3 linked regions of the Homo sapiens genome follow. The protein of the gene in region 2 purifies or fractionates together with the protein of the main gene of each other region. This does not show direct contact. Each region holds a gene or a part of one and is shown on either strand. Other genes may lie near its edges. The genes, in order: PM20D2, CFAP107 and GGPS1.

What was found.
Region 1: the proteins of CFAP107 (region 2) and PM20D2 purify together in Homo sapiens (affinity purification with mass spectrometry; one large-scale study listed by BioGRID and IntAct). This does not show direct contact.
Region 3: the proteins of CFAP107 (region 2) and GGPS1 purify together in Homo sapiens (affinity purification with mass spectrometry; one large-scale study listed by BioGRID and IntAct). This does not show direct contact.

Annotation. Positions count from the first base shown.
Region 1 is NC_000006.12:89,155,990-89,159,643, reverse strand, and holds part of PM20D2 (xaa-Arg dipeptidase), read right to left. Parts: intron 1,320-3,654; coding exon 1,184-1,319; intron 1-1,183. UniProt on the Homo sapiens protein: Catalyzes the peptide bond hydrolysis in dipeptides having basic amino acids lysine, ornithine or arginine at C-terminus. Postulated to function in a metabolite repair mechanism by eliminating alternate dipeptide by-products formed during carnosine synthesis.
Region 2 is NC_000001.11:12,759,645-12,763,298, reverse strand, and holds part of CFAP107 (cilia- and flagella-associated protein 107), read right to left. Parts: intron 2,530-3,654; coding exon 2,348-2,529; 3' UTR 1-2,347. UniProt on the Homo sapiens protein: Microtubule inner protein (MIP) part of the dynein-decorated doublet microtubules (DMTs) in cilia axoneme, which is required for motile cilia beating.
Region 3 is NC_000001.11:235,331,457-235,335,110, forward strand, and holds part of GGPS1 (geranylgeranyl pyrophosphate synthase), read left to right. Parts: intron 1-3,654. UniProt on the Homo sapiens protein: Catalyzes the trans-addition of the three molecules of IPP onto DMAPP to form geranylgeranyl pyrophosphate, an important precursor of carotenoids and geranylated proteins.

The sequences.
Region 1 (3,654 bases), on a different chromosome or scaffold from region 2:
TTCTTTTCCGTATTTCCCTCAAGCTTGTATCCACTCTTTCTATTTTCCTTGAAAGCTAACTCTCTTGAAAAAGAATAGTCTTCATTTGCTACTTCCACTATCTCAGCAGTCAATGCCCTGGGTAGAGAAGTGAGACCCAGCATCTGGTACCACTGGTCTTATACTATTTTCTTCCAGACAATTCATGAATTTCTAATTACTAGAGTCCAGTGGACACTAGACCATATTCATCTTATTCAGTCTCTACAGCACTTGACATGATTTATGCCTCCTTCTCTTCTGTAAGTTTTCTTCTCCCTTGGCTTCCATGACTTCTCCTCTCTCCTGATTGTCTGGCTTTCTCTCTGACCACTTCGTTGACTGCCAATGTCTGATCTCTGGGAATCTTCTTCCTCTATGTATTTGGGCAACCTCATCGACATCTATGTCTTCTATATACCTTTCATATATGGACAACTCCTAAATCTCCAAACTAGACATCTTTTTGGGTTCTAGATTTAACAGGTACTGAACAGCTCCACTTAGAAATACTATAAGCACCTCAAGTTTAACATACTAATAATTTATAACAACCCCCTCTTACCCTAACCTGCTCTTTCTCTTGAACTCCTTATCTTAATGAATGACACCGACACCCCATTTTCACCACCAAGTCCTTTTGGGCCTACTTCAACAACATCTATTTTTAAAACAGATGATACATCTCTAACTTGCAAATGTATTAGTAATAATATGCTTTTAAAAGGAAAAAAAAACTAACATAACCCCAAATATGCTTATTTCAATTCTAGCTGTCTGTTGCTCCTCAGAAACTGAAAATGCCCCAGATAACTAAGTACTTAGTAACCTGCTTATTGTGATGACTGAGAATGAATTAAAATTCTATATCCCACCTTAGCAACTTACTTAAAAATTAAAACTAACGAAACTTAAACACTAGAAAATATTTAGAATACAGACAAAAATGTAGGTTGACTATTTCTAAAATCAAGTCTGCTCGTTTGACATTCTACACTCACTTAAGAGTCCATTAGTTTCTTTCCCCTAACCATAAAGTTTGTGAAAATATTAAAAACGTCAGTAGTACCTCCCGACCTCCCAAACCATTAAATACAACCAATTTAACCAAAGATGGTATTTCTCTTCCTCAAATAGCTCAATATATAAAAAAACACTTAATTACCTGAAGGGCCATTCAACATTGTATCTTCTGAAATGAACTCTATTCCTAGCTTTCTTCCATTTTCCATATAGGCTTTCCATAGGCTCTTATTGGGAAGAACATTGTAATAATCATGTGCTCCACCTTTAATTTCCACCTAATAAAAAATTGCAAAACAAATTTTGAAATAAAAAACTCAAATTCACTATCTAATTTTCAAACCAGTGATTGTTCTCTAATAGGAAGAGGTTTTAAGAGAAGATACTTTCCCTTCCAGATATAAACACTCTCAAATCTCTTACCTTAAAAAAGAAAAAAGATTTATTTTCTATAACGAGAGTTCCTAGGACTCTCTTTTATGCTATATATACACTAAACCCCACAATGTCACCAAGCTCTATACTAGCTACCAAGTGTCAACTTCAGTCACCTAGATAGGGTATGAGAAGGGCCCAGAAATTTTTATTTTATTTTTGAGATGGAGTCTCACTCTGTTGCCCAGGCTGGAGTGCAGTGGTGTGATCTCAGCTCACCACAACCTCCGCCTCCCAGGTTCAAATGATTCTCCTGCCTTAGCCTCCCAAGTAGCTGGGATTACAGGCGCCTGCCACCAAGCCCAGCTAATTGTTTTTGTATTTTAGTAGAGATGGGGTTTTGCCATGTTGGCCAGGCTGGCCTCAAACTCCTGACTTCATGTGATCTGCCCGTCTCGGCCTCCCAAAGTGCTGGGATTACAGGCATGAGCCACTGCACCCAGCCTAATTTTTATTTTAACCAGCACCTCAAAGTAATTCTGACATAGGTGACCCAAAAACCACACTCTGAGGAACACTGCTCTAGGATTCAGTCTCCAAAAAAAAGAAATTAAGCTTTACTAATATTCAATATGCAAACTGACACTGACATCACTGCCTGGTGTGAGAGGTAGAAAAGTACTCTGAGGGAAATGTAGAAGATTTGCAATGAGGAAGGGTTGACAACAGTCCTCATTTATTAATTTCAGTATATAAAGATACGGAAGCAGCTTTTATGTGCCCAGTTAAGTGGATTTACAGATTCAGTTTTGATTAAATAAAAATTGGCAATATTCCCTCAAACCAATATTAGCAAAAGCCAATCATAAAATGGCAGAGATGACATTTCTTTTATTCTTAGCAACATCTACGGTAGAAATTATGACAACCAAATCAGACCTTACAAGTCAGCCAAAATATAAGAAATTACTAAAAGATTATTTAAAATATAGATTTAGGCCAGGCAAGGTGGCTCACACCTGCAATCCCAGAACTTTGGGAGGCCAAAGCACGAGGATCACTTGAGCCCAGGAGTTTGAGACCAGCCTGGGCAACACAGGGAGAGCCTATCTCTACAAAAAACTTTAAAAATAAATAAATTAAATTAAATATAGATTCAAATCCAATAACAACAAACCTTACCATAAGGGAATACTGTATACCTTGAGATATTGCCTAATGATAATAGTTCACATCCATAAGTATTTCACAAATAAATATTTATAATTATAAATGAATAAGGGAATAAATATTTAGTTTTTACTGCCCTCAGCTATGGACATTTCACAGTTTTCATTCACTATAACCATCTTCTCTAGTGGCATATGAGAATACATCTTTGCTCCTACATCTGTCCATATGTTTATCGATTAACTACAACACAACACGAGCTTCTATATTCTTATCTTTGCTGACTATATTCCCTAAGAACTTTCAGTCTCTGTCTTTCCCATGCATATCTGAAAGTATGATCAACCTTCAAAGCTCAGTTCAGGTCTACAGTCTTCCACAAAACCTTCCTCCAAGGTTAACAGCCCCAGACCACTCTTTCCCACCTCTGATCCTCACGACACATTCCACACTACTCTCAGGACACGTAACATATGCTTTCTGAGAATTACTGCTACTGTGAGATACTGCTACTACGTGAATCAATCATACATCTCTAGACTAATAAGAACAGAAAAAAATAAGGCAATATAAATGAAGGCTGGGCTCTAAACCCTTCAGAAACATTATCTCATTTAATTCTCACAAGAATCCTAAGATAAATTGTTATTATCTCCATTTTTCAAGCAAGAAAATGGAGAGCCAAAGACACTAAACATTTCTAAAGGTTACAGAATTAGCTAGGCTGAGAGTTATGGGTCAAGATCTTGTCTCTCCAACTAGACTACAGGCTCCCTCTAGGGCAAGATTCTTATCTTGTATAATTCTAAAACTCACTCCACTTTACACAGTACATGATTTTAAATACTAACTTTATAGTTCAAATCAACAAAACCAGTCAGTGTGGTGGCTCACACCTGTAATTCCAGCACTTTGGGAGGCTGAGGTGGGTGGATCACAAGGTCAGGAGTTCGAGACCAGCCTGGCCAACATGATGAAACCTCGTCTCTACTAAAGATACAAAAAAATAGCTGGGTGTGGAGGCAGGCGCCTGTAATCCCAGCTACTCAGGAGGCTGAGGCAGGAGAA
Region 2 (3,654 bases):
CCCAACATAAATTTGTAAACTTACTTAAAACATTATGGGGTTTTTTTACGCGATTTTTTTTTTAGCTCATCAGCTACCGTTAGTGTAAGTTTGTTGTTGTTGTTGTTGTTTTTGGGATGGAGTCTCACTCTGTCACCAAGGCTGGAGTGCAGTGGTACCATCTGGTCTCACTGAAACCTCCGCCTCCTGGGTTCAAGCGATTCTGCTGCCTCAGCCTCTGGAGTAGCTGGGATTCCAGGCATGAACCACTATGCCAGCTCATTTTTGTATTTTTAATAGAGACAGTGTTTCACTGTGCTAGACAGGCTAGTCACAAACTCCTGACCTCAGGTGATCCGCCCATATAGGCCTCCCAAAGTGCTGGAATTACAGGCATGAGCCACTGCGCCCAGCCCCTGTTCATTTTTTTATGTGTGGCCCAAGACAATTCTTCTTCCAATGTAGCCCAGGGAAGCCAAAAGATTAGACGCCCCTGCTTAGCATATCCTGGGTCTCCCTCACTCCTCGCAATCCATCGCTGTCCCCCAGGGCCTCCAGCTGCAGCACCTCTCTGTCCTGCAGCCATTTACCTCATGCTCCTCCCTGACTGCTGGACTGAGGCTCTGTGAGGTCAGGGCCTGGCCCAGACATGGCTCAATGGATGCTCAATAGAAAGGCTGGATGTTGGAGGTGTGAGGACAGCCAGCTCCACTCCATCCCACAGCTGTCTCCTGCAGCAACCTTTCTGCACCCCCTGGCTCCTCCTCCTGTCATTCATTCATTCAACTCATTTGTTCAACTCCTGTCATCCACTCATCCAACAAACATAGAGGACTTAGCCTGTGTCAGGCTCTGACTTTCAGTTGGGATGGAAGACAGCGTCCTTACATGGACACTTGGATGACTAAGGAAGGAACTTAGTAGGTGCCAAAGTGACCCTAAGGTAGGTGCAACCTTTCTGCACCCCCTGGCTCCTCCTCCTGTCATTCATTCATTCAACTCATTTGTTCAACTCCTGTCATTCACTCATCCAACAAACATAGAGGACTTAGCCTGTGTCAGGCTCTGACTTTCAGTTGGGATGGAAGACAGCGTCCTTACATGGACACTTGGATGACTAAGGAAGGAACTTAGTAGGTGCCAAAGTGACCCTAAGGTAGGTGGCCTGAGGCCAGCAGGTATCCTGTGAAAACAATGGCAGAGACTCAGGCTCCCATACTGGGAGTCATATTATTGGTGTGCAGTACAAAATCACTGACAAAACACACCTGTGCCCATGAGCCAAGCATGCAAAGGGCCAAAGGTGTCTGCTGGAATTTCTTCAAAGAGGCAGCTCTGTGCGAGCACTGAGCATGCACACTTGTGGACCCCTGTCCTGGGCGAGGACCATGCCTGAGTTCTTCTGCTAGGAGATCCACCCTCTCTCCCAAATCACTCACCAGAGGTTCTCCCCTCTGCCCAGGCTCATAAAGATTTGAGAGCTCAGCCAGGTGCGGTGGCTCACGCCTGCTAATCCCAGCACTTTGGGAGGCCGAGGCAGGCGGATCACGAGGTCAGGAGTTCGAGACCAGCCTGGCCAACATTGTGAAACCCTGTCTCTACTAAAAATACAAAAATTAGCCAGGCGTAGTGGTGCGCACCTGTAGTCCCAGCTACTCAGGAGGCTGAGGCAAAAGAATCGCTTGAACCCTGGAGGCAGAGGTTGCAGTGAGCTGAGATCGTGCCACGGCACTCCAGCCTGGGCAAGAGAGCGACACTCCGTCTCAAAAAAAAAAACAAAAAAAAAAACACAAAGATTTGCGAGCTCAGAGACAAAGGAAATGCCATGTGTTTTCCCCTTCTTCTGAGCCCCGTGGGGCCAGAGCACGCCTTCCTCTGCCTTGGCAATGACAGACAAGCTGGGGTCCTTCCCCATTGCCAGCTCTGCAGCACTGCCCTCCTGGGAACCACATTCAGTCATTCTGTGGAGTTTTCATGATGGGTTTCATCATCAGATTCATTTCCTCCATGGGAGTAGACTCTTCAGCAAGTCACATTACCTCTCCGGGCCTCAGTTTCCCCTCTTGTGAAACAACAGGGTAGAACTTAAGGGCCCTTCCTGTTTTCTCTGACAGTCTGAATCTGTCTTGTGCACGTACATAGCCCTGCAATAGTGTCAAAGATCTTTAATTGTTGGATGGAAAAGAAAGGAACCTGTGGGTTTTGAGGGGGGACAGGTACCGCCAAATGCAGATGATGATTCTGAGAGCACCTTTGACGGGCCAGATCTCGTACTCTGAGTTTATCTGCGCCACTTGTTGTCTGGCAAGTCCAGTGATGCTGTGGTCTCCAGCTGATTCTATCTGAGCTGCTCCTGGGGTGGCAGCTCTCAGAAGTGTGGGAGAGGATGCAGGCGATGGGGAGGGACCGGGACCGCATGCTCCCTCCAGGACATAGCGCACAACGGTGGTCTGGGGTAGGATGAAGTATAAGTGCTCTGCTTCAGGCCAGCCTTGGGTGTGAGCTGTCTCTGCTTGAGCTGCTCATAGAGTCCATAGTTTGTAGGGGGAGCTGCAAGAGAAACCAGGGTCCAGTTGAATGGGGCTTACAGAAGGAGTCTTGCTCTAAATGGCCAATGGCCACGAGACTGGGCAGCAGGGGCCCTGGAGATTTTCCCAGGCTGCTCTGTCAGGGACCAAGGCTGGCAGAGGCCCACAGGGAAGAGCCTTGCAGAGAGCATTGGTTCAGCCAGCCCCTGGCGGTCTCAAGGTGCACCTGCATCCCAAGTGCTCAGGGGAGATCAGGCTCTGCCACGGGGGCCTTGGAAAAGTCAGCCCCATGGTGTGGTTGTGCGTGGCCTCGCTGGTCCTGAGTAATTGTCCCACCCCTGTCGGGAAGGAAGCTGTGTGCACTGAGAGTGATGTTGAGAAGAATCCCATGCAAAAGTAATGCAGAGTGACCAGCAGCTCATCCTCTGACCTGTGTCCCTTTGCATCAAAAGGTAGGACCACAAAGAGCTGGCACTGCTCTGTGTCCTCACTAGTGTGGACGTGGCTTGAAATGTAAATCACATCAAGGCACTCTCCTACAAAAGTGCATTCCAAGTCTTGGGATTGTGGATAGGACAAATTTCATTCCCTTCACTGTGCCCTATGAACCCCTACATGATCCTCCTCCATTCCTGCCTTAGAACTTTTTCATTTACTGTTCCTTCCTCTGGAATGTCCTCCCCCTCAATCCCTGTATGGCTCCCTTCTTCCCAATTCAACTCTATCTCCTCAACAAAGACCACCCCTCACTTTTCCAAGGAGGAATTTGTGAACCAAAGGAGGTTCACAAATTCACCACCTCACTTTCTCTCCATTACCTGTTTTCTTTATAGCGCACACTCCTGTCTAAAATTATCTATGTGATCTTAAGTGTTCTTACTTTTTAATGGTGTCTTATCTGTTTCCCCCCTGGAATGTCAACTCCCCGAGTCCAGAAATTCCTCAGTGTTTGTTATCATTGCAGCAGGGAGCACTACCTGGGAAATATTGTCATTATTCATGTAGTAAATAAGACTGGGAGGAAGGATGCGTGGATGTTGCTCCCTGCCACCTGTGCTCTAAGCCCGCCACCATGGGGCACAGGTGATGGCTTCATTACACAGCCAAGATTACCCCAGGTCAAAGGGAAAGGACAGGAGGCAGCCCT
Region 3 (3,654 bases), about 220 Mb from region 2:
CACGAATATTTGTCTGCTTGGCATTAAAGGGTAAAGATATTCCATAGCTGGGAATCTTAATCTGAGGTACGTGTAAACATTCAGGGACTATATGATCTCTGAGAATTTGTATGTTGTAAGTCTTTGTGGCAGTGTATACATTTGTGTTGCAACTTATTAACACATACACCGGGCTTTTTTTTTTTTTTTTAGAAGATTCATAGCTTTCATCATATTCTCAAAAGGTTTCTGTGACCCATGAGATGGTTTACAGTATGGGGAAGCATCAAAGCACTTGCACAGTTGATGGTTATATGTGTGTGTTATTATTTCAGCCACCCATTATCATGTGCTTACCAACTGCCTAACAGTGCATACATATGTAGAAGTTTTATTCTTTTCTCCTGTTGCCATATTATACGTCTCATTTCACAGCAGAAAAACAACTGCATGACAGAGACAATGTGGTTCAAACCATTTTACCCTTGTATTCATTGACTGCTACAAAACAGGAACATTAAATACCTGATTGTCACCAAATTGGGTAGTCTCAGCACTTCTACACTCGTAATTGTGCTGGAAAAGTGGAATGCTAGCACTAATAATTAGATTTTGGTTTGGAGGGTTTTTTATTTGTTTATTCTTACTTGTATAAATTTATGGGGTGCAAGTGTAGTTTTATCACATGCATAGATTGCATTGTAGTGAAGTCAGGACTTTTAGGGGGTCCATCACCCATGTAATCACGTTGTACCCATTAAGTAATCTTTCATCATCCACCTCCTTCCCACCTTCTCACCCTTTGGAATCTCCATTGTCTATCATTCCACACTCCATGTCCATGTATACACATTATCTAGCTCCCATTTATAATTGAGAAGATGTACTATTTGTCTTTTATGTCTGACTTGTTACACTTAAGGTAAGGGCTATCCATCCATTTTGCTGCAAATGACATGATTTCATTTTGTTTTAATGGCTGAGTAATCATTCGTTGTATATATACCACATTTTCTTTATTCAGTCATCTGCTGATGGACACTTAGGTTGATTCCATATCTTTACTATTGTGAATAGTGCTGTAATAAACACATAGTGCAAGATTTTGGAAATTTTACTTTTGTGGCACGTTGTTGGTATTTACTCAGGATCTTTGGATTTGCTTGGCTGCATGTATATGAATCAGTGTGTTTATTTACTGAAATATGTGCAAAAGTCTTGTCTTTGGTGGATTAATTTATAATATAAATCCACAAAAGTCAGATTCTGCTCCTAAGTATATTTTACATTTTTAAATTTAATGCCAGCAAGAAGTTACAGTACTAGAATTGCCTTACCCCTGAGAGTATCAATGATCAGATCATAGTATCAGGTGACTGGGCTATAGAAGATGACTTTTATTACTTAACATTATGAAGTTACTAGGGCTGATTTAGAAATCGAGGAACACTGGTGAAACCCCGTCTCTACTAAAATACAAAAATTAGCTGGGCGTGGTGGTGGGCACCTGTAGTCCCAGCTACTCAGAAGGCTGAGTCAGGAGAATTGCTTGAGCCCAGGAGGCAGAGGTTGCAGTGAGCCGAGATCGTGCCACTGCACTCCAGCCTGGGCGACAGAGTGAGACTCCGTCTCAAAAAAAAAAAAAAAAAAAAAAAAGGAACACATCCTCACTGTTACAATAAATAACAGTAGCCCACACCCCCTTAGTTGTGATGTGGTGTGATACCATGTAAGCAACCTATTTCCAGTTCCCCTAACATTCTCAAGCAGCTGTATCAGAATCATACAAGATGCATATTTAAATTGAAGATTTCTAAGTCTCTGGCCCAGACTTAGAAAAAAAGGATCAGGCCGGGCACAGTAGCTAACACCTGCAATTCCAACACTTTGGGAGGCTGAGGCGGGTGGATCGCCTGAGGTCAGGAGTTTTGAGACCAGCCTGGCCAACATAGTGAAACCCCATCTCTACTAAAAATTCAAAAAATTAGCTGGGCGTGGTGGCAAGAACCTGTAATCCCTGCTATTCGGGAGGCTGAGGCAGGGGAATCACTTGAACCCGGGAGGTGGAGGTTGCAGTGAGCCAAGATTGCGCCACTGCACTCCAGCCTGGGCAACGAGCAAAACTCCGTCTCAAAAAAAAAAAACAAAAGGACCTTTGAGCAATCAGAATAACACAAAGTACATGAACTGAACTTCATTTTCTTCATTCAAAAGAAAGTGGCCCTCACTCAAGCAAATATATTCTTGTGCTTTATCTTCTGGCATACTGAGATAACTTTCTAAAGTGGTTTCCAATTCCAAAATCCAATGATGTGCAACTCATTGAACAGCCCTAACCACAAACTGCCATTAGATGCCATATTACATTTAGCCTTTTTGTTGTAGAAAAGTTGGTTAGAAGTGGGCTCAGGATTCTAAAGACTAAATCATAGTCCCAAGAAGCAAAAGAAAGAGGATAAAAGTAATAAACTTCCCAAAATGTGCCAAAGATGCTAGAGCAGTTAGATTCCTAATATGAGGACAAGTAATAATAGAAACAGATACAAAGAAATAAAGTAGAGATTCAACAGTACAGGGAGACCCTAGGAAGACCATGAGTGTTATTCTAGGAAATACTGAAATAAGACAGATTTCAGTATAAAGGGGAATATGTTTAATAAATATATGCATTTGAGTTAATGCGTATTTTAAATCAGAAATCTCTGAAATGGATTGATTGTAGAGAAACTACTAGGGGGACGAGGAGAATCCCTTTAAATTTTAAATACATAAAACATACTCATCTTAGTGCTCATTTAAAAAAGGATATGTTTACTAATTAGTGTAATCAGTTAAATACAGAGGTATCTTTCCAATTCTTTGGATGTGTTTTGACATTTGCCGTCAACAAATTAAGCCTTTTGTGGTTGATTAAAATAGGAAAAGCTTAATATAAGTTATGTGACTAAGAAAACAACTTAAAAACCAAGACAACACTTTGACCAATATAATCACTTGAATGAAGAATTTTCTAATTGAGATATAATTTACATACCACCCATTTAAAGTGTACATTTCAGCAGTTTTTAGTGTATTCACAGGGCTGTGCAACCATCACAATTTAATTTTATAACATTTTGATCCCTGCGAAAAGAAACCCTGTACTCATTAGCAATTAGTCCCTGTTCCTAACCACTAATCTACTTTCTTTCTCTGTAGATTGGCTTATTCTGAACATTTCGTATAAATGGAATCATACAATATGTAGTCTCTTGAGATTGGCTTCTTTCACTTAACATGTTTTCAAGGCTTCATAGCTGTAGAATCTTGCTTTGTTTTTTTGAGACTGGAGTCACTCTTTCGCCCAGGCTGGAGTGCAGTGGTGTGATCTCAGCTCACTGCAACCTCTGCCTCCCGGGTTCAAGCAGTTCTCCTGCCTCAGCCTCCCAAGTAGCCAGAACTACAGGCACACACCACCATGCTCGGCTAATCTTTGTAGTTTTAGTAGAGATGGTGTGAAGGCTGGTCTCGAACTCCTGACCTCATGATCTACCCACCTCAGCTAATTTTTCATATTTTTAGTAGAGACAAGGTTTTGCCATGTTGCCCAGGCTGGTCTCGAACTCCTGGGCTTAAGCTATCCGCCCGCCTCAGCCTCCCAAAGTGCTGGGATTACAGGCGTGAACTACCGTGCCC